4 linked regions of the Homo sapiens genome follow. The protein of the gene in region 4 interacts with the protein of the main gene of each other region in a biochemical or structural test. Each region holds a gene or a part of one and is shown on either strand. Other genes may lie near its edges. The genes, in order: AZU1, CTSG, TXN and CFP.

Region 1 (7,444 bases), on a different chromosome or scaffold from region 4:
CAGAAGGAGACTCTATCTCAAAAAAAAAAAAAAAAACAAACAAACAGTGACTCCAGAGGGTTGGAGCCCTGCTAGATACCTTAGTTTGCTCATAACAGGCACTGCTGCCCCCGGGAAGAGGGTCGCCTGCCATAAATGCGGAAACAGTTAAATGGCGATGGGAATAGGATGGGAACTCAATGGTGTTGCTACCTTTGGATGGACTCGGAGGCAGCCCAGCTTCCTGGGACAGGACTGCACGGACTGCCTGGGGAGGGGTCTTTGGCCCCCCGGTTCCTGCAGGGGGGCTCGGGGAGGCCCTGTGAGCAGTTGGTCACAGGTGGGTCCCATTCGATGCGATCCTGTTCCTCCCCAACAGCCCTGGAGAAGGGGGACGTTGCCTGCTGTGGCTGCGGCTGTTTTCCTGGCCTGTGAGAGGCGGGGCCAGAGTGGCCGTTGGGAATCTGGGTGTTGCAAGGTGACCACAAACAGCTCTCTGGGGGAGGAGGAGGAAAATGCAATTGATTTTCAGGAGCCTTCTGAGGTCAGGAGTGGGAGAGTGTGCAGGGGGACCCTCCTGGCAGCTTGGGGGTCCAACAGAAGATCTGGGGGAGTCTCAGGGTCTTCTCCCCCTAGGATCACCAGTGGTGGAGATGGGGCAGGCCTGGCCATGGAGGGCACGTTGCTTGGCTGAGGGGCCTGGGCTTGAGTGTGGGGCCTGGGCTTGAGTGATGGGAGAGTTCCGAGCAGGCCGGAGGGGTTGAGCGTACCAGACGCTGCTCAAAACTTTTATTTAAAAATGATTATTATTATTATTACTATTATTTTGAGATGGACTCTTGCTCTGTCGCCCAGGCTGGAGTGCAATCGTGCGATTTCAGCTCACTGCAACCTCCCACCTCCTGGGTTCAAGTGATTCTCCCTCCTCAGCCTCCCGAGTAGTTGGGATTATAGGCGCCTGCCACCACGACGGGCTAATTTTTGTATTTTTAGTAGAAAGAGGATCTCCCCATGTTGGTCAGGCTGGTGTTGATCTCCTGACCTCAGCTGATCTGCTGCCTCAGCCTCCCAAAGTACTGGGATGACAGGGGAGCCACGGAGCCCAGCCTTTTTTTTTTTTTTTGGGAGACGGAGTTGCACTCTGTCGTCTAGGCTGGAGTGCAGTGGCGCGATCTCGGCTCACTGCAAGCTCCACCTCCCGGGTTCACGCCATTCTCCTGCCTCAGCCTCCCGAGTAGCTGGGACCGCAGGCGCCCAGGACTATGCCCGGGTAATTCTTTTGTATTTTTAGTAGAGACGGTGTTTCACCGTGTTAGCCAGGATGGTCTTGATCTCCTGACCTCGTGATCCGCCCGTCTTGGCCTCCCAAAGTGCTGGGATTACAGGCGTGAGCCACCGCGCCCAGCTTTTTTTTTTTTTTTTTAATAGAGAGAGGGTCTCACCATGTTGCCAAGGCTGGTCTCAAACTCCTGGGCTCAAGTGATCCTCCCACCTCGGCCTCCCAAGGCACTGGGATTACAGGCGTGAGCCACCACGCCCGGCCTCAAAAACTTTTCAGAATATGAACCCCACTCCATGCTCAGCACTGTTCTGTCTAGAAGGCAGAGTCTATCCCTGTCTCAGGGCACACTGACGTGCAGACAGCGAGCTCGCCCTGAGGTCATGCGACTGGGAGGGACAGAGCTTCCGGCTCCCGGCAGAGGGGAAATGGGGCCTGGCCCACGGGAGAGCTGAGGCCCACGTTTGGCCAGGACAGGGTGGATGGAGGCTGGGGCCTCCGCAGGGAAGATGGACAGGTAGGATCCGGGGTGGGCAGAGAGGGAGAGCTGGCTTGGACGGAGGCAGGGATCTGGGGGCTGTGCCATGGACCCTGTGAGGTGGCTGGGCTGTGAAACTCAGTGGAGACCGGAATTATTATTATTATTATTATTTTTTTGAGATGGAGTCTCACTGTCTCCCGGGCTGGAGTGCAGTGGCACGATCTCGGCTCACTGCAAGCTCCGCCTCCTGGGTTCACGCCATTCTCCTGCCTCAGCCTCCTGAGTAGCTGGGACTACAGGCGCCCACCACCACGCCCGGCTAATTTTTTGTATCTTTAGTAGAGATGGGGTTTCACCGTGTTAGCCAGGAAGGTCTTGATCTCCTGACCTCATGATCCGCCCGCCTCGGCCTCCCAAAGTGCTGAGATTACAGGTGTGAGCCACCGCTCCCGGCCTGGAGACCAGATTTGAGCCCTGGGACCCTACATTCCCGATGGGCAGCGGACCTCAAGGCACACCGGCCCCGCCTCCCTGGACTCTCCCCGTATCCGCCCCTTGGAGGGGCAAACTGCCCTCAGAGGGCTCCCACAGGCCCAGACACAAACTGGTGTCCCCAAGGGTGTGGGGGACACGGTAAGCTCCAGACCTCAGTTTCACCTTGGAAATGAGCCCCTTTGTAAAAAATGGAGGTGAGTTTGGACGCAGTAGCTCACACCTGTGCTCCCAGCACTTTGGGAGGCCGAGGCAGGTGGATTGCTTGAGCTTAGGAGTTTCAAACCAGCCCGAGCAACATAGTGAGACTCCACCTCTACAAAAAAATACAAAAATTAGCCGGGCATGGTGGCATGTGCCTATGGTCCCAGCTACCTGGGAGGCTGAGGCAGGAGGATTGCTGGAACCCGGGAATCGGAGGCTGCAGCGAGCTGAGATCGTGCCACTGCACTCCACCCTGGGCAACATAGTGAGATCCCATCTCTACAAAATATACAAAAATTAGCCGGGCACGGTGGCGGGTGCCTGTGGTCCCAGCTACTCGGGAGGCTGAGGCAGGAGGATCAGTTGAACCCAGGAGATTGAGGCTGCAGTGAGCTGAGATGGTGCCGCTGCCCTCCAGCCTGGGCAACAGCGAGACCTCAACTCTGAAAAAAACAAAAGAAGGAGATGAAATTTACATAACTTAAAATTAGCCATTTTGAACGGTACAGTGAAGTGGTTTTCGGTGCATTCACCGACTTGTGCAACCATCACTGCTGTCCAGTCCCAGAACATTCCATCACCCCAAAGAAGGAAGCCCCATCTCCATCCATCAGCCATCACCCCCTGCCCTCCCCCGGCCCCTGGCAACCACAGATCCACTTCCTGCCTCTGCAGATTTGCTTGTTCTGGACATTTCGTCTATTTATTTTTATATAGTTTTTAATTTGTTTTTATTTATTTTTTTTGAGACGGAGTCTCTCTGTGTCACCCAGGCTGGAGTGCAGTGGCGCAATCTCGGCTCACTGCAACCTCCACCTCCCAGGTTCAAGCGATTATCCTGTCTCAGCTTCCCAAGTAGCTGGGACTATAGGCGCCCGCCACCACGCCCAGCTAATTTCTTTTTTTTTTTTGAAATGGAGTTTTGCTCTTGTCGCCCAGGCTGGAGTGCAATGGTGCGATCTCGGCTCGCTGCAACCTCCGCCTCCCAGGTTCAAGTGATTCTCCTGCCTCAGCCTCCTGAGTAGCTGGGATTACAGGCATGTGCCACCACGCCCAGTTAATTTTGTATTTTTAGTAGAGATGGGGTTTCTCCATGTTGGTCAGGCTGGTCTTGAACGCCCAACCTCAGGTGATCTGCCTGCCTCGGCCTCCCAGAGTGCTAGGATTACAGGTGTGAGCCACCGCACCCAGCTTGTCAATTATATCTCAATAAAGCTGTTGAAAAAGTTTAAAAAAATCACCCAATCGGGCACAGTGTTTCACACCTGTAATCCCAGCATTTTGGGAGGCCGAGGTGGGTGGATCACCTGAGGTCGGGAGTTTGAGACCAGCCTGGCCAATATAGTGAAACCCCATCTCTACTAAAAATACAAAAAATTAGCCAGGCGTGGTGGTGGACAACTGTAATCCTAGCTACTCAGGAGGCTGAGACAGGAGAATCACTTGAGCCTGGGAGGCGGAGGTTGCAGTGAGTCGAGATCACACCATTGCACTCCAGCCTGGGCAACAAGAGCGAAACTCCGTCTCAAAATAATAATAATAATAATAATAATAATAATCACCCATACAGACGCGCAGGACTCAACGCAGGACTGCCAGCTCCACTGCCCTGAGCCCCCCGGTGCCAGGCCCAGCGGGCAGTGCTGGAGCCCCAGTGGCTTGGGATGGGGAGACTGGGACTCTGAGCTGGCAATGTTCCTGGGTGCTGGCTGCATGCCCGCCATGTGCTGGGCTCCGGGATCCACTGGTTCCTGACACCCTCACCTGCCCCTGGGGGTGTGGCCATCTTCTAGAGAGGGAAACTGAGGATCAGTGCAGAATGTAGGGGGAGCCCAGGCTGGCCCAGGGAGCAGTTGGCGGTGGAGGCCTTGGGCAATTTCCCGTGTTCCCACTGAGTGGGGCTGTCCCTGGGCCTGGGCGGGGACGCCACCAACTGCCAAGGCCTGTGTATAAGGGCAGCCGCCGCCTTAGCCACAGACCTGCCCCGCCATGACCCGGCTGACAGTCCTGGCCCTGCTGGCTGGTCTGCTGGCGTCCTCGAGGGCCGGTGAGTGCCTCTCTGTGCCGGTGGTCCCCCATCTGTGCTAGGGCCCGGCTGCCAGGGCAGAACTCAGACTTAAAGCACAGAGAAGGCAAGCGGCTTGGCCTGGGTCACACAGCCAGCCCGGCCTGGACGATCCCGCGAAAGGCGTGAGGGCGGACGGTGTGCGGGACTCAGGGGCCCCCTGTCCTCTTAGGGAGTGGGACGATGGGGGAGGGTGGGTCCCCCCGCAGCCCCACTGGGTGGATAGAGCTGAGGCTGCAGCTTCACACGCCCTCCCGGCCACTGTGTGGATTCTTGGGGATCTCAGAGCTGTCTCCCCCCGACCCAGGCTCCAGCCCCCTTTTGGACATCGTTGGCGGCCGGAAGGCGAGGCCCCGCCAGTTCCCGTTCCTGGCCTCCATTCAGAATCAAGGCAGGCACTTCTGCGGGGGTGCCCTGATCCATGCCCGCTTCGTGATGACCGCGGCCAGCTGCTTCCAAAGCCAGTGAGGGGTCCTGGGGAGGGGGCCTAGGGGGCATTGGGGCTCAGAGAAGGGGCTTGGGGGGCTTAGGCATTCAGTGGGGGTGCTTGGTAGGTGAGGAGGGGAGGGGATTGCAAAAGGAGGGGCTCAGGGAAAGGAGGGGGCTTGGAGAGGGAAATGGGGACTGAGTTGAGGAGGGACCCAAGGATATTGGGGGGCTCAGATGGAGGAGGCCCAGAGAAGGGAAGGGGGTCAGATGGAGGAGGCCCAGAGAAAGGAAGAGGCTCAGATGGAGGAGGTGCAGTGAAGGAAAGGGGGTCAGATGGGGGAGGCCCAGAGAAGGGAAGGGGCTCAGATGGAGGAGGGGGCCCAGAGAAAGGAAGGGGCTCAGATGGAGGAGGTGCAGAGAAGGGAAGGGGGTCAGATGGGGGAGGCCCAGAGAAGGGAAGGGGCTCAGATGGAGGAGGTGCAGAGAAGGGAAGGGGCTCAGATGGAGGAGGTGCAGAGAAGAGAAGGGCCTCAGATGGAGGAGGTGCAGAGAAGGGAAGGGCCTCAGATGGAGGAGGTGCGGAGAAGGGAAGGGGGTCAGATGGAGGAGGTGCAGAGAAGGGAAGGGGGTCAGATGGGGGAGGCCCAGGGAAGGGAAGGGGCTCAGATGGAGGAGGGGCAGAGAAGGGAAGGGGGTCAGATGGGGGAGGCCCAGGGAAGGGAAGGGGCTCAGATGGGGGAGGCGCAGAGAAGGGAAGGGGGTCAGATGGAGGAGGTGCAGAGAAGGGAAGGGGGTCAGATGGGGGAGGCCCAGATAAGGGAATGGGGTCAGATGGGGGAGGTGCAGAGAAGGGAAGGGGGTCAGATGGGGGAGGCCCAGATAAGGGAAGGGGCTCAGATGGAGGAGGTGCAGAGAAGGGGAGGGGGTCAGATGGAGGAGGCTCAGAGAAGGGAAGGGACTCAGATGGAGGAGGGGGCGCAGAGAAGAGAAGGGGCTCAGATGGAGGAGGAGGCGCAGAGAAGGGAAGGGGCTCAAGATGGGAAGGGGGCCCTGGAAAGTCTCGGCTCTGCTTCTGTAAAAGCGGGGGAGTTTTCAGGGTGAAGGATTGCAGTCTGCAGGCTGGGATCCCCCCTAATTTGCAAGCCGGCTTGCTCTGTGCCCAGGCCCCAGCCTGGTGTCCTCCCTCTGCCCTTTCCTCCGCTACTCTCAGGAACCCCGGGGTTAGCACCGTGGTGCTGGGTGCCTATGACCTGAGGCGGCGGGAGAGGCAGTCCCGCCAGACGTTTTCCATCAGCAGCATGAGCGAGAATGGCTACGACCCCCAGCAGAACCTGAACGACCTGATGCTGCTTCAGGTGAGAGGATGGTGCCACCTGTGATCCCAGCACCTCGGGAGGCCGACGTTAGCCAGGGAAACAAGTCCAAACTTGGTCTCTACAAAAAAATACAAAAATTAGCCGGGAGTGGTGGCGCGCACCTGTGGCCCCTGTGCTTCAGGAGGCCGAGGCGGAAGGACGGCTTGAGGTCAGGAGTTCGAGACCAGCCTGGGCAACATGGCCAAACTCAGTCTCTACAAAAATATATATGTGTGTGTGTGTGTGTGTGTGTGTGTGTGTGTGTGTGTATCTTGCCGGGTGAGGTGGCTCATGCCTGTAATCCCAGCATTTTGGGAGGCCGAGGTGGGCGGATCACGAGGTCAGGAGATTGAGACCAGCCTGGCCAACATGGTGAAACCCCATCTCTACTAAAAATACAAAAATTAGCCAGGCATGGCAGCGGGCGCCTCTAGTCCCAGCTACTCAGGAGGCTGAGGCAGGAGAATCGCTTGAACCCGGGAGGCGGAGCTTGCAGTGAGCCGAGATCGCGCCCCTGCACTCCAGCCTGGGTAACAGAGCCAGACCCTATCTCAAAAAAAACTTCCAAAAACAATACAGCAACACATACAGATGTACCACGGTTCGCGTATGGAGCCTCCTGTTGGTGGAGACTGACGTCGTTTTCAAATGCTTTTGCTATGACAGAATCATGTGAATGTTTTTCATGTTTGGTTTTTTTCTTTGAGAAAATGATAAAATTATCTCAAAAATATCATTAAAAAATTTAAAAAAGTAGAGACGGGGGTTTCACCTTGTTGGCCAGTTTGGTCTCGAACTCCTGGCCTCAAGTGATCCACCCACCTTGGCCTCGCAACGTGCTGGGAATACAGGCGTGAGCCACCGCACCCGGCCCCTGCCGGGAATTAAACGCAAACCACTTACAGACTACAGTTAATGTCGCTGACACTTCTGCTCCCAGGGGTCCCCATGAGGCTCCAGTCCCCAGGGCCACCCTCCCCTGACTCCATTTCCTTCCCCAGCTGGACCGTGAGGCCAACCTCACCAGCAGCGTGACGATACTGCCACTGCCTCTGCAGAACGCCACGGTGGAAGCCGGCACCAGATGCCAGGTGGCCGGCTGGGGGAGCCAGCGCAGTGGGGGGCGTCTCTCCCGTTTTCCCAGGTTTGTCAACGTGACT
Region 2 (7,448 bases), on a different chromosome or scaffold from region 4:
TCCCCAGTTCCCCAAGCGATTCTCCTGCCTCAGCCTTCCGAGTAGCTGAAGTTACAAGTATGTGCCACCATCCTGGCTAATTTTTTTGTGTATGTTCCTAGTAGAGACAGGTTTTCACCATGTTGGTCAGGCTGGTCTCCAACTCCTGACCTCAAGTGATCGACCCGCCTCGGTCTCCCAAAGTGCTGGGACATGGGTGAGCCACTGCACCTGGCCAGATTTCTGAGTTCTTTATGTAATTTGAATATAAGCCCTTTGTTGTTTATGTGTATTTCAAGCATCTTTGCCTACTCCATGAATGGTCTTTTGTTTCTCTCAATTTAGATGTGTCAAATTCATCAGTCCTTTTCTTCATTATTAGTACTTTATATACAGTACTAAAATCTTTACCTATCATGAAGATATTCTTCCATTATATATTCAAATCATTATTCCTACTTGGATCCATAATCTACCTAGAATAGGTTTTTTGATATTTTGGGAGAAGAAGGTCAAGTTTTATTTTTCCACATAGAAAATATTTGTCTCTATAGGACACCATAAAGGCAATTTATTATCCCAGTACCATTTATTGGGGATAAAAAAAGAAAATAGTCTTTTCCCTATTATGATGAAAGATGCAACATCCATCATAAATCAATCCATCCATGTGTATGTCAGCGTCCACATGCGTGTGGAGTCCTTATTTCTGGTCCATTAGTCCATGTTTCTATGCCTCATCAATACCACGCTATCTTCATTCCCATGGCTTTGTTTGCAAAAGCAAGTCTTCCATCTTATTCTCATTCTCTAATGGTGACCTGGCTATCATTAGCCTTTTGTTTTCCAAATATACTTACAATCAGTTAAGTTCTATAAAATACCGCTCGGTGCAATGAATCTATATAGATCAATTTTGGGAGAGCTGACATTTTTACAATATTTAGTCTTCTTCCAATCTATGAACATGGAATCTCTTCATGTTTAGGTCTTCTTGAATGTCTCTTCATTCAGTTTTATAATTTTCACCAAAGAGGTCTTTCACATATTCTTTTAGATTTACATTTAGTTATTTGATCATTTCCATGCCATTTAAGTATTACTTTCTAAAAATTTCTTTCTAACAGTGTTGCAGTACATGTAGAAATATGATTAATTTTTAAATTGATTTTTTCTAGCAAATCTGTAAAACTCTTATTAATTATGGTAATTTACCTGTAGATGATTTTGGATTGTCTACGTATACTATCACTTCCTCAAATCATTACAATTTTGTTTTCTCTTTTCCTGTCTTTATACCTTTCATTTCCATTTCCTACCTAACTGCACTGGCTAAAACTGCTAATGTACTGTTTGTTGAACAGAACTGATAATAATTTGTATTCAGGCATTATTGTAATGTTTTGCTCTCAAAAAAAGGTTTTAACACTTTTCCATTAGGTATAATGATTGCTGTGGGAATTTTGTGATAACTTCTATCAGATTAAAGACACTCTTTTTATTCCTAGTCTGCTAAGAGTATTTTTTAAGTAAATAAGGGTAAATTTTAGGCCTTCATTGTTTCAATTAAATAATCACATGATGTTTCTTCTTTAGTCAGTTCATATGATGTGTTACAGCAATTTTGCTTTTCAAATGAAAAGTCAACTATGTGTTCCTAGAATAAACCCAAATTACTTATGATATATTAATATCTATTTGCTTATTGATTGATTTGGTTTGCATCAATATTCAAAAGTTTATTGACCTATAATGTTTCATTTCTATATTGTCTCTATTGGGTTTGGCATGGAGGTTATGCTAGTCCCATAAAGGGAAGGGTAGCATCCGTTCTTCAGAAGAAACTATATAGCATACTTTAAATATTTTCTACAGATTTCTCCTTAATGTGGTCATCAAAAACAAAAGTTGAAATTTTGTGGATTCAGCACATTCCCTTGGAACAATAGCAGCTTCCTAACTAGACTCTCATTATTCCTTCAACTTGATCTGATAGTCACTTCAATGCTGGTAGTTCTTCGAGGTTTGTAAGCTTTTTAGATATCTTAAATAGCTTTGATTACTTTTAATGAGAAGATTGCATGAAATTCTAGGTCACTATTAATGAAATTTCCTAATCAATCTTTATTACATGAGTGAATGCATATATTTTACTCCTTTTTTTTCATATGTGCAGGTTTTTCTTTATCCCTTTCTTCTATTTTTAAGTTAAACTAACATTTTTAAAACAAAACAAAATGTTGAAAATTTTTAATAAATTAAATTATGCCAAATGCTAAGGCACTAATAAAGGTGCTATACTATTCTCTCTTTGCTCCCTTCTTCTTCACGTTACTTTTCAGATGCATAAAGACGTTTTATAGAGCCTGTACAAGAGAAGAGGTTAAGCTCTGTGCAGCTCTAAAAATAAGTGAAAAAATTATATATTTATGTATAAGGAAAGGAACCCTAATTTTCATGAGATTTTCAAGAGGGCCTATTATACTCCATAAAGACTGGGAATTGTATCTCACACCAATCAGAATGGCTATTACTAAACAGCCAAAAAATAACAGATGCTGGCAAAGTTGCAGACAAAAGAGAACACTTATACACTGTTGGTGGGAGCAGTTCAACCATTGTGGAAAGCAGTATGGTGATTCTTCAAAGAGCTAAAAGCAGAACTACCATTCGATCCAGCAATCCCATCACTGGATATTTACCCAGAGGAATATAAATCATTCTACCATAAAGACACATGCACGCAAATGTTCACGGCAGCACTATTCACAAAAGCAAAGACACGGAATCAATCTAACTGCCCGTCAATAGACCAGATAAGGAAAATGTGGTACATATACATTGTGGTACATATACATATGCAGTCATAAAAAAGAATGGACTCATGACCTTTGCAGGGACATGGGTGGAGCAGGAGGCTATTAGCAAACTAATGCAGGAAACCAAATAATACATGTTAGTTAGCAAACTAATGCAGGAAACCAAATAATACATGTTCTCACTTATAAGTGGGAGCTAAATGATAAGAACTGTGAACACAAAGAAGAAAACAACAGACAGTGGGGTAAGAGGAGGGAGAGGAGCAGAAAAGATAACTATTGAGTGCTGGGCTTAATATCTGGGTGATAAATATGTACAACAAATCCCCGTAACATGTGTTTACCTATGTAACAAACCTTCACATGTACCCCCAAACCTAAAATAAAAGTTAAAAATAAATACCTAAGTAAAAGATTTTCAAAATAAAAGACAGAAAAAAAGAGATTGGGAATTGTATTAGTCTTCAATTCTGCTATTTCTGCAAAAATTATACTGGATTATAACGGTTTTCTGTGCATACACAGAATCTTCTAAATATTTTAAGTGTTTTTAATAATCCATTGTGTTACTCTGCAGTAATTTGCTGTTCTTTTCTCCCATTGTTGAGTATGCGGCTCTAATTCTTTTATAGGTAGCACAGCAATGAATGTACCTCCTTCTCAGAAGCTTTTGCTCCTGGGATTAGGTTGATGGGCCTCTAATGTCACCAGTGAAATGGGATATTAGATATTTTCCAGCTAGGATACGACAGCTCCCAATAAAACCAAATTACTAAGCCTTTTCTGCAAGCAAGGAGCCGTCTGGAACATAAGGACTTTAACCTTGGGTAGGAGACAGGCAAGCAGAAGTCTTCAATTGTGTCACAATTTTCACTGAGGACTCAAGTGACCTAAGAAAGTAATTGTGATTGTCAGAGCCTTGTTCTTCCTTTTCTTTCTCCAGCCGCACGCTTCACCTACTCAGGAGAGTGCCTACGCAATCTGACTTGACAGCTTCTAGAAAGAAATTAGAGCAACAGGGGTCTCAGCAGGGTGGTCTTGGGCCAAACACTGAAAGCAGGCAGGCTTACCCTTTCCTCTTCTGCCCCCTTCAACTTTTTCCTGATGTTCTTACCCACATCCCTCACCACACCACACCCTTTCATTCATCCTTGTCCCAGACTTATTAAGTATATACAGATAAGCAATCCAGGGAACTTGCATTCATTAGGAGAAACCCAGAAATTCAAAAGCAATAATGATCTAATCCCAGAGGAGTAGAAAACAGGAAGTGGGCAGCTGCCAGCTTTCTTGCTTTGCTGGAGTATTCTGGAATTTGATGGGTTGAGGGTTCTGGACACAATGCCCCAAGCCCCTTCCTTGTTGTGCTGGGTTCCTATTTCTGCTCTCGGCACTGACTTAGCAGCTGCTCAAGAGCTCACTATGTTGGCTTGGATTACACGGTCTCACCCACATCTCCGGCAGTTTGTGGGCAAACTTCCTGAGCAGCCTTGGGTGATGAAACCTTTCATGGTAGCAGGAGAATGGGACTGTGAATTCTCAATCCCCTGTCCCCACCCCTTCCTTCCTCTCTCAGGGCCTTAAAGTCTAGGAGGAGGAAGCACAGCAGCAACTGACTGGGCAGCCTTTCAGGAAAGATGCAGCCACTCCTGCTTCTGCTGGCCTTTCTCCTACCCACTGGGGCTGAGGCAGGTGAGTGACCATCCCCACCCTCAGAGGCCTGACCTCATCCCATAGATTCTTGAGCCAAATTGCCTTGGTATATCCTAATTCTGTACTGTTGAGCAAGTTATTTGAATTTGTGTTTCCTCATCTATAAAATGAGAATAATATTAATACCGATCTTGCAGAGTTGCCATGAGAGTTAAATAAGTTAGAGTATTTAAATGTCTTGGAATTGCCCGCACACTATAAGTGCTATAAAAACATGCTTTGTGTAAATAATTTGGCAGCATGTGTCAGACCCTACCTAGGAGGTAAGAATACAGCAATAACAGTACCATCAGCTCATGTCTAGATTTTTAAACACCAGTCCCACGTGGTCTTGAATTGGACTCAGAGGGCTCTGGGAAGCTCCATGAGGATAAAAGTATAAGGGAACTTCAGGAACAATCCTGTACTTACAGCAAAGCATTCTCCTCAATACCTGAGGCTGAAGCTGGCCTTGCCTGGAACAAGGGTTGTTCTCCCTCTTTTGGAGAGGAGGAGGGAGGTGAGGCCTAGGATGGGGAAAAGGGCTCCTTTCAAGACAGCAGTGTTTCCTGTAGAACCCTGGAGCCCCCTCCCAATCTGCTGCCCCATAGACTCCAAGCCTCAGCACCATCTCCTCCCTCTCCTGCACCCTCTCTCCTGCCGTCCCCATCTTCCAGCCTTTCTGGAGCCACCAATCTGGTACCCACATTGCAGGTTCAGCAAGCATAGAGCTAAGTGCCAAATGCTTCCTTCCAGGGGAGATCATCGGAGGCCGGGAGAGCAGGCCCCACTCCCGCCCCTACATGGCGTATCTTCAGATCCAGAGTCCAGCAGGTCAGAGCAGATGTGGAGGGTTCCTGGTGCGAGAAGACTTTGTGCTGACAGCAGCTCATTGCTGGGGAAGGTGAGGAGCTAAGGAACTTCCTGGCCAGCCAGGAACACAGCCCTGCGGAGCTCTTCGGTGGAAGAGCCATCTGAAAGAAGAGTTGTAGCAATGAAAGGGTGAAAGAAAGACCAAGTGAGTCTTTGCGGGAGGGAACAGGCCAGTGTAAATGAGGAGGAAAGGAGGATAAGATCAAAAAGAGCAAGAGGAAGAGATGGAAGACACATATTGGGGCTCAAAATATAAACTCAGGCTATTTATCAACTTAATCTGGGGAAGCAAACCTGAAGGCAAGTACCACCCTGTCATCCCTAGCTCAGAGCTGCTGAGAAAGAGGATACAGCTGAGCCCCAGGGCCCTCCCATCCCCTCGATTCTGGTTAGCTGCAGTCTTGCCCTCCCCGTGCTGTCTGCCTACCCTGCAGAGCTGGTGGACCATAGCTCCTGCAGCCCAGACCTACCTCTTGCTTTTGCAGCAATATAAATGTCACCCTGGGCGCCCACAATATCCAGAGACGGGAAAACACCCAGCAACACATCACTGCGCGCAGAGCCATCCGCCACCCTCAATATAATCAGCGGACCATCCAGAATGACATCATGTTATTGCAGGTACCACCTACCTGGCCCTCTGGCTCCTTCCTAGTGTGTCCGGGGACAATGGAGGAGGAAGTGAGGGCAAGGCTCCGGGGTGGCGGGGAGGGCATGGGATGTGTACTGCACCAGCGACCCCCGAGCCTTGGCTGGAGGCCCCAGCTGAGCGGGAACGCCTACATTCTTCCTCCAGCTGAGCAGAAGAGTCAGACGGAATCGAAACGTGAACCCAGTGGCTCTGCCTAGAGCCCAGGAGGGACTGAGACCCGGGACGCTGTGCACTGTGGCCGGCTGGGGCAGGGTCAGCATGAGGAGGGGAACAGATACACTCCGAGAGGTGCAGCTGAGAGTGCAGAGGGATAGGCAGTGCCTCCGCATCTTCGGTTCCTACGACCCCCGAAGGCAGATTTGTGTGGGGGACCGGCGGGAACGGAAGGCTGCCTTCAAGGTAAGGCATGGGCATTGGCCAACACACCCCGGGAGAGAGGGGCCCGTGCAGAGCCAGGCAGTGCGAACAGATTCCATCCCCACAGCCTCAGCCTGGCAGCCAGACCAGGGTGGGCTGGGGATTGTTTTCCCCATCAACCTGGTCTCTGGGGGAATAGGAGGAAGACCCACAACACATACATAGGCAACATTCTCCTGGAGAAGGGAGAGGTACCTTGACTCAGATTGGGCTGGAGACAGTAATTAAGGCAGAGCTGAAGTCCAGCGACCGAAAAGATCCAGAGGCTTGGCTCCTGTACCCCACCGATCTTCCATCTCACACACACCCAGCAATTGAAGGGGCCCACCCACCCCTGCCTTCCCTGAGAGCCCGGAGCTCAGGGAAGCAGGAGCAGGGAGGCCTGTCTCAGTCTCCCTTCTCCTCTCTACCTACAGGGGGATTCCGGAGGCCCCCTGCTGTGTAACAATGTGGCCCACGGCATCGTCTCCTATGGAAAGTCGTCAGGGGTTCCTCCAGAAGTCTTCACCAGGGTCTCAAGTTTCCTGCCCTGGATAAGGACAACAATGAGAAGCTTCAAACTGCTGGATCAGATGGAGACCCCCCTGTGACTGACTCTTCTTCTCGGGGACACAGGCCAGCTCCACAGTGTTGCCAGAGCCTTAATAAACGTCCACAGAGTATAAATAACCAATTCCTCATTTGTTCATTAAACGTCATTCAGTACTTAGTTTGTTTGGATTGCTACAACAAAATAGCACAAATTGGGTGGCTTATAAATAACAAATTTATTTCTCACAGGTCTAGAGGCTAAGAAGTCTAAGATCAAGTCACTAGCAGATTCAGTGTCTAATTAGGGCCCATTTTCTGGTTCACAGACAACCATCCTCTCCCTGTGTCCACATATGGCAAAAGGGGCAAGGGAATTCTCTGATGTCTCTTTTACAAGGGACCTAGTCTCATTCAAAGAGCTCAGCTTTTACGACCTAATCACATCCCAAAGGCCCCACCTAATGCCATCACATTGGGGATTAGGT
Region 3 (3,242 bases), on a different chromosome or scaffold from region 4:
GAGTGCCTGGCTGACATTTTCAATCTCTATTGGGCTCCAAACCAAACCAGTTTCGTGGTATTGTCCTCCAAACCTTGCCCTCTTATAGCATGAACAATGTGTTGAGCATGGGGTATTATAAGAGTTCTCATTTAGCATTCCACAGTTGAGGAATGTGTGTTACTTCAATTACCTTTGAGCTGTAGAAAAATCTTTAGCTGTGGTAACAGCCACTTCTAGGAGAGGAGAAAATACGGATCAACTAGCCCAATTTGCGATGTTAGGAATTTGTCGATTTTCTTAGTAGGATGGCTTTCAAAGGTTAGAGCATCAGAGTCACCTGAAGCCCGACTTTAACTGTAATGGTTTAAGATGGGGTTGATGGGGAAACTTGTAGTACCCCTCAGGTAATTCTGATACTGCAGCAAGGTTTGAGAATTCACAAAGTCTTTTTATTTTTCCTCCCGAGATAGTCTCATTCTGTCGCCCAGGCTGGAATACAGTGGCATGATCTCAGCTCACTGCAACCTCCGCCTCCCAGGTTCAAGCAATTGTCCTGTCTCAACCTCCTGAGTAGCTGGGATGACAGATGTGTGCCACCACACCTGGCTAATTTTTGTATTTTTAGTAGAGATGGGGTTTCTCCGTGTTAGCCAGGCTAGTCTCGAACTCCTGACCTCAGGTGACCCACCGGCCTTGGCCTCACAAATCAGTTTTTAATTAAAAATAAGCAGGAGGCTGAGTGTGGTGGCTCACACCTGTAATCCTAGCACTTTGGGAGCCCGAGGAAGGTGGATCACTTGAGCTCATGAGTTTGAGACCAGCCTGGGCAACATGGAGAGACCTTGTCCCTATAAAAAAAAAAAAAAAAAAATATATATATATATATATATATATATATATATATATAGTGTGTGTGTGTGTGTATATATATACACACACACACACAAAATTAGCCAGGTGTGGTGGCGTGTGCCTGTAGTCCCAGCTACTGGGGAGGCTGAGGAGGGAGGATGGCTTGAGTCTGGGAAGTGGAGATTGCAGTGAGCTGAGACTATGCCCCTGCATTCCATCCAGCCTGGGTGACACAGCCAGACCCTGTCTCAAAAATAATAATAATCAGTAAACCCAGTGTGGGGTTATTCCTTTAGATTACTATTATTTTGTTCTTGAACAATTGATTTTTATTTTTTTAGACTTTTTAGCCTTTATATAATCATTCTGTGTACTCTGCCTTCATAATAAAACTGGAAAAATTATGAGCAAGAAATAAGAGGTACTAGTTCTGAGGAATAGTTAAGATTATCATACTGAGTCCAATTGTAGCAGAATTTTTTGTTGCTTCTTTGTATGATACTTAAAATAGTTGAAAATTTGATTGGATTAAAGAGCATATTGGATCGCTGGAGTATCTGATGCTAGTAACATTCTGAACATTCTGCCTGTTAATGTGCCCGTCAAAGGAAGTAAATATTAATAAAACTTCTTCATTGAGAATATAACCGGTTTGGCTTTTGTAATGCCATTATATTCATTATATTAATTTTCATATGCTGAAAAATGTCCTCATGCGGAAATGTGGGGTACATGACAGGGAAAAGTTTCTGGTTTTGGATTACTTCTGTCAAAGCTCAGTACTCGCAGTCTTGTATTTAATCCTCTCCCTTTGCTACTTTCCCTACCAGGATGTTGCTTCAGAGTGTGAAGTCAAATGCATGCCAACATTCCAGTTTTTTAAGAAGGGACAAAAGGTACGTACATCTGACCTTTAAAACTCTAACTGGGCAATAGGAAACCCAGTATAAGTGAATAAATCACTGGAGTGATGTTCCCTTTAAAGATTGAGGCATATCACCAAGTTCTGCTTTTAAGAATTTTTAAATATGCCAAAATTCATTGGCTTAAGTACATAATGTGACAGCTAACTGAAAATCAATCTTTCCTAGAACTAGTCCTATTTATATCATAAAGCACATAGAATTTCTTAGACTTGGGCAGTTCATTTGTTGTTAAGTATTGTGTAAAAGAAAATTTGTACTTGAGCCTTTTGACTTTTCTCTTGATATTTTTTCTTTGTTTATAACTTAAATGAACTGTATGTTATTCAGGGAAGTTTACTTTAAATAAGATTATACTTCTTTTTCCCTCCACCCCTATTCTTCCTTCATTCTATGCTGAATACATATTTATACATATGTATATATATACATATGTATATGTATATATATAAATACATATTTATACATATTTTATGTATAAAACAGTGCTACAGTGCTACGTCTAATGTCAATTCAATATTCTCTTAACAGGTGGGTGAATTTTCTGGAGCCAATAAGGAAAAGCTTGAAGCCACCATTAATGAATTAGTCTAATCATGTTTTCTGAAAATATAACCAGCCATTGGCTATTTAAAACTTGTAATTTTTTTAATTTACAAAAATATAAAATATGAAGACATAAACCCAGTTGCCATCTGCGTGACAATAAAACATTAATGCTAACACTTTTTAAAACCGTCTCATGTCTGAATAGCTTTCAAAATAAATGTGAAATGGTCATTTAATGTATTTTCCTATATTCTCAATCACTTTTTAGTAACCTTGTAGGCCACTGATTATTTTAAGATTTTAAAAATTATTATTGCTACCTTAATGTATTGCTACAAAAATCTCTTGTTGGGGGCAATGCAGGTAATAAAGTAGTATGTTGTTATTTGTTATCTTTTGACAGAGAAAATAGCATTCTCTGTTTTAGCAGGTGAATCCTCTATGCTCTCCAAAAGATCAGCATGACCAAAATTGATGTCCACTCATGAAGGACTTGTTCGTTTTGTTTGTTTGTTTTGCCACGAGGATCGGATCTTGATTCTCCTCGAAGTATCTGAGAAAGTCTAGTTGTATAGGCCAGACATAGGTTCTGTCTTGAGTGGTAAAAGTTGTGGGAAATTATTACTTATATCATTCAAAGAACATTGTTTCTTGTGTTCTAAGCACAGTAAGGGGTTGGGGGTTTGAAGAAACTTTTTGAGTTTACATAATAATGAAGAGCAGAATTATCATATGCCAGGTATCATCTTTCTATTAATTCACTTAATCTTTGTAACAATCCTATTAGATATAGACACTATAATCCCCATTTACCTGTGAGGAAACAGACAAAGGGTGGTAATTTCCCCAGCATCACAACTAGTCATTGGAGGAGCTGGGATTTGAACCAAAGAAGTCTGGTACCAGAATATGTGCCTTTAACTACTACATTGCCCT
Region 4 (7,526 bases):
CCCCAGCCCCCAGCCACTGTTGGAGGAGGAAAGGGAGTGAGGAGAAAGGCCTCCTCAATCCTTCCTCTCAGCCCCTAGACCCTTGAAGCAGACTGTCCCCAAATGAAGGGCTGCATGGTCACATGGCCTAGGAACTCTAGAAATGGCAGAGCATCTCTGCCCTCAATCAAGAGCCCCACCAGCAACATCAGCAGCCTCATCCTGGTGTACCTGGGCAGGGTGGCAGGCCGGTGCACCTCCGCTGCTCGTAGGCTAGCCCCGGGCAGGGCTTCCCAGGAGGTTTCTGGGAGGGCTCAGGTGCAGAACACTTGCGGCTTCGTGTCTCCTTAGGTTCGTGGGGTCCACCGTGGCAGGAGGCTGAGCAGGGGGTCCAGGGGCCCCAGGTGGCCCAGGCCCCGTGTGCTGTGGTGGGGTGGGAGGTGGAGGGATGCAGGTGTGGTCATGCATGCTAAAGTCCTCTCAGCCTGGCAGTTCCCTGCTGTAACCCCGCAGACCCACGCTGGGTGCACCCATCAGCATCCTGTGGCTTCCCTCACTCACTGGGGCAGACCTGCTGGGTGTCACAGGCCTCTGATTCCTGTGCCTGTCCTGGGCAGTGGCCCCCACACTTGGGAGCAGGGTGATTACAGGCTCGCCTGCGGGTCCGGGTCCCTTTGGAGCAGGTGACAGAGCAAGGCTCCCAGGGCCCCCAGCCAGACCAGCCGCCCATCTCTGTGGGAGAGAAGAGAGGGTAATGGGATGGAGGTGGGGTGTCATTCAGGGCTCTTTGCTTCCTTGAGTGCCCCACATGAGCTAATCCTGTCCTTATATCCTCTGCCACCATTCTGGGCCCACCATCCCCGCTCACCGGGCCTGCCGCAGCAACCTTCACATGGGTGCCTCCGCTTCCCCTCTCACCCTCACCGTGCACAGTCTGTTCTCCTCCCAACCCCAGTCAGATCACGTTCCTCCTCTGCCCACAGTCCAAATTACTCAGATGAAAAGCCAACGTCCTCTCTGTGGCCCCCAGGCAATGGACCCTCCTCACCTCTCTGACCTCACCTCCCACCACTCTCCTCCTTAGGTCCTTACAAACACTGGGGACGGGCCCACTCTGAGGACCTCTGTACCGATCGTTCCCACCAGTGCTGGGTGACAGGGAGTGCTTGCCCGCCTTGCTCATCCTCCTCACCAGGACAGCACTGCTGGTCCTCACAGGCCTGGAGCTGCCACTCCAGGGTCCCAGGTGCCACCTTTCCAGAGCACTGCCCATTCCAGCCCACACAGCGCCGGTACCGCAGCTGGGAGCCCTCAGAGCACGTCACCGAACAGGGGGCCCATGTGGACCACAGGGACCATCGTGGGGACCTGTGGAGAAGAGCACACACATCCCATCCTGGCATGAGCTAACAAGAATGGCATGTGGGACTCCAGAGTGTGGGCAGACACGAAGGGTTGCTAGGCAAGTGCGTGTGCGATGGATTGATAAGTCCTTACCTTTTAGGGATATTGGGATACTGATGGGAAGCAGTGGATATACAATAAGTGCTTGATAATGTCATTTACCTTCACAATCAGGCATCTGGAGTTACCATTGGAAGGCTGCATGGCCAACACCAGGTCCGCAGTAAGCAAAGGTAAGGACTAGAAACCAAGGGCTGCTGTCAGAAACCCACCAGATCACCACACTACACGGTAGTAGGTAAATAGAAAGTGCTTAATAAACCTGAGCCATCATCCCTATGACCTCAGAGGCCTCCTCAGAAATAACCCCAGATCTATCCCCAACCCACTGCATAGCCCTAGGTATGCTGTTCATGCCAAATAGATGTGATGAACTGTTGACATGACTTGGGGCCCAGAGCTGCCCTCAAAAATCCCCAAGCTCCCCATGCCCACGGTGTATCTGGGATATATAGTAAACAAGTAGAAAACAGGTCTGGCATACGGTAAGGGCTCAATCCATGCAAGCTGGAAATCATGATCAGGAGACTAGAGCTACCCTCAGAAATCCTCAAGCTCATCTCCCAACCCTGCCATGCAGCTGGTATACAGGGAGTGCTCAATGAATGTGAAGTGTCATCATAATTAGGGGCCTAGAGCTGCCCTTTGAATTCCCCAAACTTTCCCGCCCCCACAGTGTGTCCATATACAGTAAGCACTCAATAAACATGAGCTGTCATCAAAATTAGGGAAATACCAAGCTGCACCCCACCTGCAATGCTTCCAGTGTGCAGGAGGTGCTCAATATGTGTGAGCTATGTCAGTGGTTCTCAATCAGGGGTGATTTTGACCCCCAGGGGACATTTGGCAATGTCTGCTGACATGTTTGGTTGTCACAGCTGGTGGGGAGAATTGCTACTGGCATCTAGTGGAAGGCTAGGGGTGTTACAAAACATCCCACAATACACAGGTAAGCAATCCCCTCCCCCAGCCAAGAATTTCCAGCCCCAAATGTCAATAGTAACAAGGTTGAGAAACCCTGAGGTATGGTCACGATCAGGGCCTCAGGGCCACCCTTGGAAGTCCCAGAGAAAGAAAGTGCCCAGTTTTGGGTGACCCCCACAGACAGTCCTTCCCTCCCCCCCATCCCCCACCCCAGGCTCCCCCTAACCTGCAAGGCTGACAGAGCCCACCACTACGTTTCTGGTAGGCAAAGGCAGTGTTGAGACAGCAGTCTTCCACGCTGACACCACCCCCCAGGAGGCCCTTGCACTTGCCGGAGGATTCTTCATACTGGGTGAAGCAGAGCACGGGGTCTGAGCCTGTAACAGGGCCAGGGGATGGGTGGGTGGGGCTCGGTCAGGGATGTGGTGGGCCTGGACACCCCTGGGGCCAGCTGGGCCCTCACCCCCTCACCTGTGGCTGGCAGGGTGAGCAGCAGGAGCAGCGGCGGCAGCAACAATCGAGGGGCCTGCGCTCCCTCTGTGATCATGTTGAGTACTGCCCCCTGCACCTCTACCAGAGAGGAGGTCCCGCTTTATCTGGGTTGATAGGCTCCTGGAATCAGCAGGGAAAGAGGAACCTAGAGGCAGGAGGAACTGGGAGGGCATCCTGCTTTGACCCCACCCTGTCCCCTCTGCCTCCTTCTCTACTCTCCCCTCCCCATTTCCTGTCTTACTCTTGGTCTTGTTCTGTTTGTTACTATATCCCCAGCACCTCGCGCTCCTCCCAGCAACCTCACAGTGTTCAATAGAAGCTCCTAGGACAAATTCTCACCCAGAGGAAATGGAGCATAGGAGCGTGCAGCAACTTCCTAGCCGTGTGACCTTGGGTGAGTCACTTAACACCCCTGAGCCTCAGTTTCCCTATGTGGAAAATGCATAATCTCTAACATAATGACGGGGTCAACCTCGTGGGGGTGTTGAACCAGGGTGAAGTGAGTGTGCGGTGCTCAGTATGTTCCTGCTCGTGGGGGTGGAGGGAGCATCGAGTCAGTTGCTCCACCTTCCACCCTCCCTTAACCTCGGCCCTCCTTTCCTGAGAGGTTCCCTGTGGTCAGCTTGTGGTCGGGGAGGTCAGCACAAGGGAAGTGAGAAAGGGAAGTGGCAGGAGCCTGGGGAGGGATTCAGGAGGGGAATGGGGTCTATCCATTGTTCCATGGGCCCAGCTGGGGACAACACCAGGGTCTGGGGTGATTAGGAGGGAATAAGCTGGGCCATATTCCATCAGAGAACCCTCAGGCAGATAACACCCCCCTTCTGGAGCCTGTTTCCCCTCTGTAAAATGTGCTCACAGACAGCACCTACAACATAGGTAGGGTGTGTTGCAAAGATTGCGAGTTAAGCTTTTGTTTGTTTTGTCGAGATGGAGTCTCACTCCGTCGCCCAGGCTGGCGTGCAGTGTCACGATCTCGGCTCACTGCAACCTCTGCCTCCCGATTTCAACCAATTCTCCTGCCTCAGCCTCCTGAGTAGCTGGGATTACAGCCGTGTACCACCATGTCCAGCTAATTTTTGTATTTTTAGTGGAGACAGGGTTTCACCATGTTGGCCAGGCTGGTCTCGAACTCCTGACCTCAGGTTATCCACCTGCCTTGGCCTCCCAAAGTGCTAGGATTACAGGCGTGAGTCACCGTGCCCGGCCAGGAGTTAAGCTTTTGGAAAGTCTTTAGAACAGTGCCTGGCATATAGTAGGTGCTCTGTGTTTGATAAATTTATTCAACATTTATTGAGCACCTACTGGATGCCAGATGCGGTTCTTAGCATTAGAGCAGAGAATAGGACAGACAAAAATCCTGGCCCTCGAGAAGATGGATAACAAATGTTGCCCCTCCTCACAGAGGCCTTCCCCATACCCTTGTCTGGCATCCCTGTCACTCTCTAGCCCAGTAGCTTCCAAACCTGTTTTTTTGTTTGTTTTGTTTTAAAGAGACAGAGTCTTGCTGTCACCTGGGCTGGAGTGCAGTGGTCTGATCATAGCTCATTGCAGCCTCAAACTCCTGGGCTCAAGTGATTTTCCCACCTTAGCGTCCCCAAGTAGCTGGGACTACAGGCACACACCACCACACAACTAATGTTTTTATTTTCTGTATAGATGGGGTCTCGTTGTGTTGCCCAGGCTGGTCTCAAACTCCTGGCTTCAATATTTTCTCCCAACCTCAGCCTCCCAAAGTGCTGGGATTACAGGCATGAGCCATCACACCAGCCCTTCTTTTTTTTTTATTTTTTTATTTTTTTTTTATAAACCCTAATGAAACTCCAGGGCCCACTTTAAAATTTTTATTTTGCTTTTAATTAACAAAAAGAAGCACAAGAAAGATAGGAAGGCAATGCCTAATTTCCTCTGCTCTCAGGGAGGCAGAGGAATTCTGCAAATTCAAATGTAATAATTTGGTCAGCTGTTAAAACAGAAGTTCTTCAGGAACACTTGTTTTATGGGCAGTAAAGTATGTGTTAATATCTGTATCCATTACAGACATACTCTGTTCTCTGATAACATAAGGCTATCCTTGAAAATGTGCTTTGAACAAAGGAGTCTTATTAAGATTCTACGACTTCAAGACAATCATTGCTGTGTTATCCTGTGAAAACACTCTCCAAGAGACCTGAAACTGGCCAGGCATGGTGGCTCACGCCTGTAATCCCAACACTTTGGGAGATTGAGGCAGGTGGATCACCTGACGTCAGGAGTTCGAGACCAGCCTGGTCAACATGGTGAAACGCCGTCTCTACTAAAAATACAAAAATTAGCCAGGCGTGGTGGCGGATGCCTGTAATCCCAGCTACTTGGGAGGCTGAGGCAGGAGAATCGCTTGAACTCGGGAGGCAGAGGCTCTAGTGAGCTGAGATCGTGCCACTGCACTCCAGCCTGGGCGACAGAGTGAGACTCTGTCCCAAAAAAAAAAAAAAAAAAAAAGAAAGAAACCTGAAATTCTGGCTGGCTTCTTTATTTAACCACCTGTTGCCCTGGTAATAATATTAACAATATTTCCTTTGTTTCTAAACTGTATAAATACTCATAGGATTCCCTGTGGAAGAGGACTGTCAGCACTCTATCTTTTCCCACACGTTTAGGCAATAAAATGACTGCAGATTCCTTAAACAAAGAGTGAGAGTCTTGTCTTATTTAATTATTACATCCCTACCTGCTACTATGTATTTGCCTGCTTCTTGTTATTCTCACTCCCTAAATATCAGTTCCACAAGGGCAGGGATTTTTGTCTGGCTTGTTAACTGCTGGGTCTGCAGGGCATTAGATAGGCACCAGGAAACAGTGGATGCTCAATAAACATCTGCTAAATGAATCAATCAATGAAATAAACAAAACTTTAGAGATTACGATAAAATGCCAGAAGGACAGTCTGAGTTAGAGGTAAAAATGTGGGCATCCCATGGAGGATAAGTAGTATTTCAAGTGTGAAGACCTGGATAAGATGACCTAGAGAGGATGCGTGAGAAGAGAGAAGGGAATCCCAGGGCTTTGCCCTGGGGAACCCCAGCATTTCAAGTTTTAGAGAAGTAGGAGAAGCCAGCCCAGCGGACTGAGCAGGAGGGGCCTGTGGAGGAACAGGAAAAACAGAAGAGGGTTTTTCTCCAGGGCCTGGAACATTCGAGGGTCTGCAGGGCATTAGACCTCTCACACAGTCTCATTTGGTCTGTTATTTTCTCTCTCTCTCTTTTTTTTTTTAAACCTATCTACACAGTTATGTTTTTCTTTTCTTTCTTTTCTTTTCGAGACAGGGTCTGGTTCTGTTACCCAGGCTGGAGTGCAGTGGCGTGATCGCAGACTACAGCCTCAACCTCCTGGGCTCAAACCATCCTCCCACCTCAGCCTCCCGAGTAACTGGGACTACAGGCACACGCCACACCTGGCTAATTTTTTAAACTATTTGGAGAGACAGGGTTTTGCCACATTGCCCAGGCTGGTCTCAAACTCAAACTCCTGGGCTGAAGCGATCCTCCCAACTCAGTGTCCTCAGTAGCTGGGACTACAGGCATGCACCACTATACCTGGGTAATTTTGTTTTTTGTTTTGGTAGCGGCAGGGTCCTTCTATGTTGCCCAGGTTGGTCTCAAACTCAAAATCCTGGCCTCAAGTAGTCCTCCCACATCAGCCTCCCATGTAGCTGGGATTACAGGTGCACAACACTACGTTATGCTAATTTTTTAAATTTTTAGTAGTGACGGGGTCTCACCATGTGGCCCAGGCTGGTCTCAAGCTCCTGGCCTCAAGTGATCCTCCCACCTTGGCCTCCCAAAGTGCTGGGATTACAAGCATGAGCCACCGCACCCAGTCCGGATTTACAGCCTCTACTATATTCTCTTAATCACACAGCCTCTCAGACATTCTGTCACTCATAGTCATTTTCTGTGTCATGGATTCCAGCCTTACTACAGTCTCCTAACAGTTTCACACACACAATCATGTTTAACAGCCTGTCTCATTCAGTCAATATTGCCAATAGTTTCTCTCACCAGTCAGTTCCTTACATACACGTGCAGTCACACAATCTCATGAAACGTTTAGGCACTCATTTGGCCTGTTACTTTCTCACATACACAAATAGTCACTGATTTATAGTCACCACTAACTAGTCTCTCATGAAGTTTCCCACACATGCACAAAAATCACCTCTCCTACCCCTTTCTCACTCAAGCCACTTTTTCACACACCCACGATCCCTGATTACAGCCTCTCCCACAAAGACATTCACACGCATACACAATCACACAGTATCTCAGACACTGTCGTCACCTAGTCTCACGTTTCTTCTCAATCAGCTTCCAGTACCCTCAGTCCTTGATTTACAGCCTTTCATAAAGTCTCTTGCAAAGGGTTTACCCATGGACACACAATCCGTTTCTCAGCCACTGTCTCAGTCATCACTGTCCCTCAGTCAGCTTCTGATATACTCGGTCAGTATTTCACAATCACCACTAGGCCCTCGATAAGTCACCCACAGTCACCCATGCCCTCTCAGTCGTGCACACCGTCATTTTCTTCATATGGTCAGCTCATCACGGACACACGTGCACAGCTTTACAAGTTTCTCACACACTGTCACGTGGTCACTTGGCATGTCTCATTTGCTCAGCTCTTTTGTA

The links.
Region 1: the proteins of CFP (region 4) and AZU1 form a complex in vitro, tested with the Homo sapiens proteins (one study listed by IntAct).
Region 2: the proteins of CFP (region 4) and CTSG form a complex in vitro, tested with the Homo sapiens proteins (one study listed by IntAct).
Region 3: the proteins of CFP (region 4) and TXN form a complex in vitro, tested with the Homo sapiens proteins (one study listed by BioGRID).

Annotation. Positions count from the first base shown.
Region 1 is NC_000019.10:823,423-830,866, forward strand, and holds the start of AZU1 (azurocidin preproprotein), read left to right. Parts: upstream 1-4,414; 5' UTR 4,415-4,424; coding exon 4,425-4,482; intron 4,483-4,807; coding exon 4,808-4,964; intron 4,965-6,139; coding exon 6,140-6,284; intron 6,285-7,285; coding exon 7,286-7,444. UniProt on the Homo sapiens protein: This is a neutrophil granule-derived antibacterial and monocyte- and fibroblast-specific chemotactic glycoprotein. Binds heparin.
Region 2 is NC_000014.9:24,573,211-24,580,658, reverse strand, and holds CTSG (cathepsin G preproprotein), read left to right. Parts: upstream 1-4,408; 5' UTR 4,409-4,435; coding exon 4,436-4,490; intron 4,491-5,204; coding exon of another isoform or gene 5,205-5,246; coding exon 5,247-5,394; intron 5,395-5,848; coding exon 5,849-5,984; intron 5,985-6,159; coding exon 6,160-6,414; intron 6,415-6,848; coding exon 6,849-7,022; 3' UTR 7,023-7,141; downstream 7,142-7,448. UniProt on the Homo sapiens protein: Serine protease with trypsin- and chymotrypsin-like specificity. Also displays antibacterial activity against Gram-negative and Gram-positive bacteria independent of its protease activity.
Region 3 is NC_000009.12:110,243,266-110,246,507, reverse strand, and holds the end of TXN (thioredoxin), read left to right. Parts: intron 1-1,664; coding exon 1,665-1,730; intron 1,731-2,288; coding exon 2,289-2,351; 3' UTR 2,352-2,698; downstream 2,699-3,242. UniProt on the Homo sapiens protein: Participates in various redox reactions through the reversible oxidation of its active center dithiol to a disulfide and catalyzes dithiol-disulfide exchange reactions.
Region 4 is NC_000023.11:47,626,931-47,634,456, forward strand, and holds the start of CFP (properdin precursor), read right to left. Parts: upstream 3,001-7,526; 5' UTR 2,915-3,000; coding exon 2,839-2,914; intron 2,745-2,838; coding exon 2,594-2,744; intron 1,348-2,593; coding exon 1,172-1,347; intron 712-1,171; coding exon 541-711; intron 403-540; coding exon 211-402; intron 17-210; coding exon 1-16. UniProt on the Homo sapiens protein: A positive regulator of the alternate pathway (AP) of complement. It binds to and stabilizes the C3- and C5-convertase enzyme complexes. Inhibits CFI-CFH mediated degradation of Complement C3 beta chain (C3b).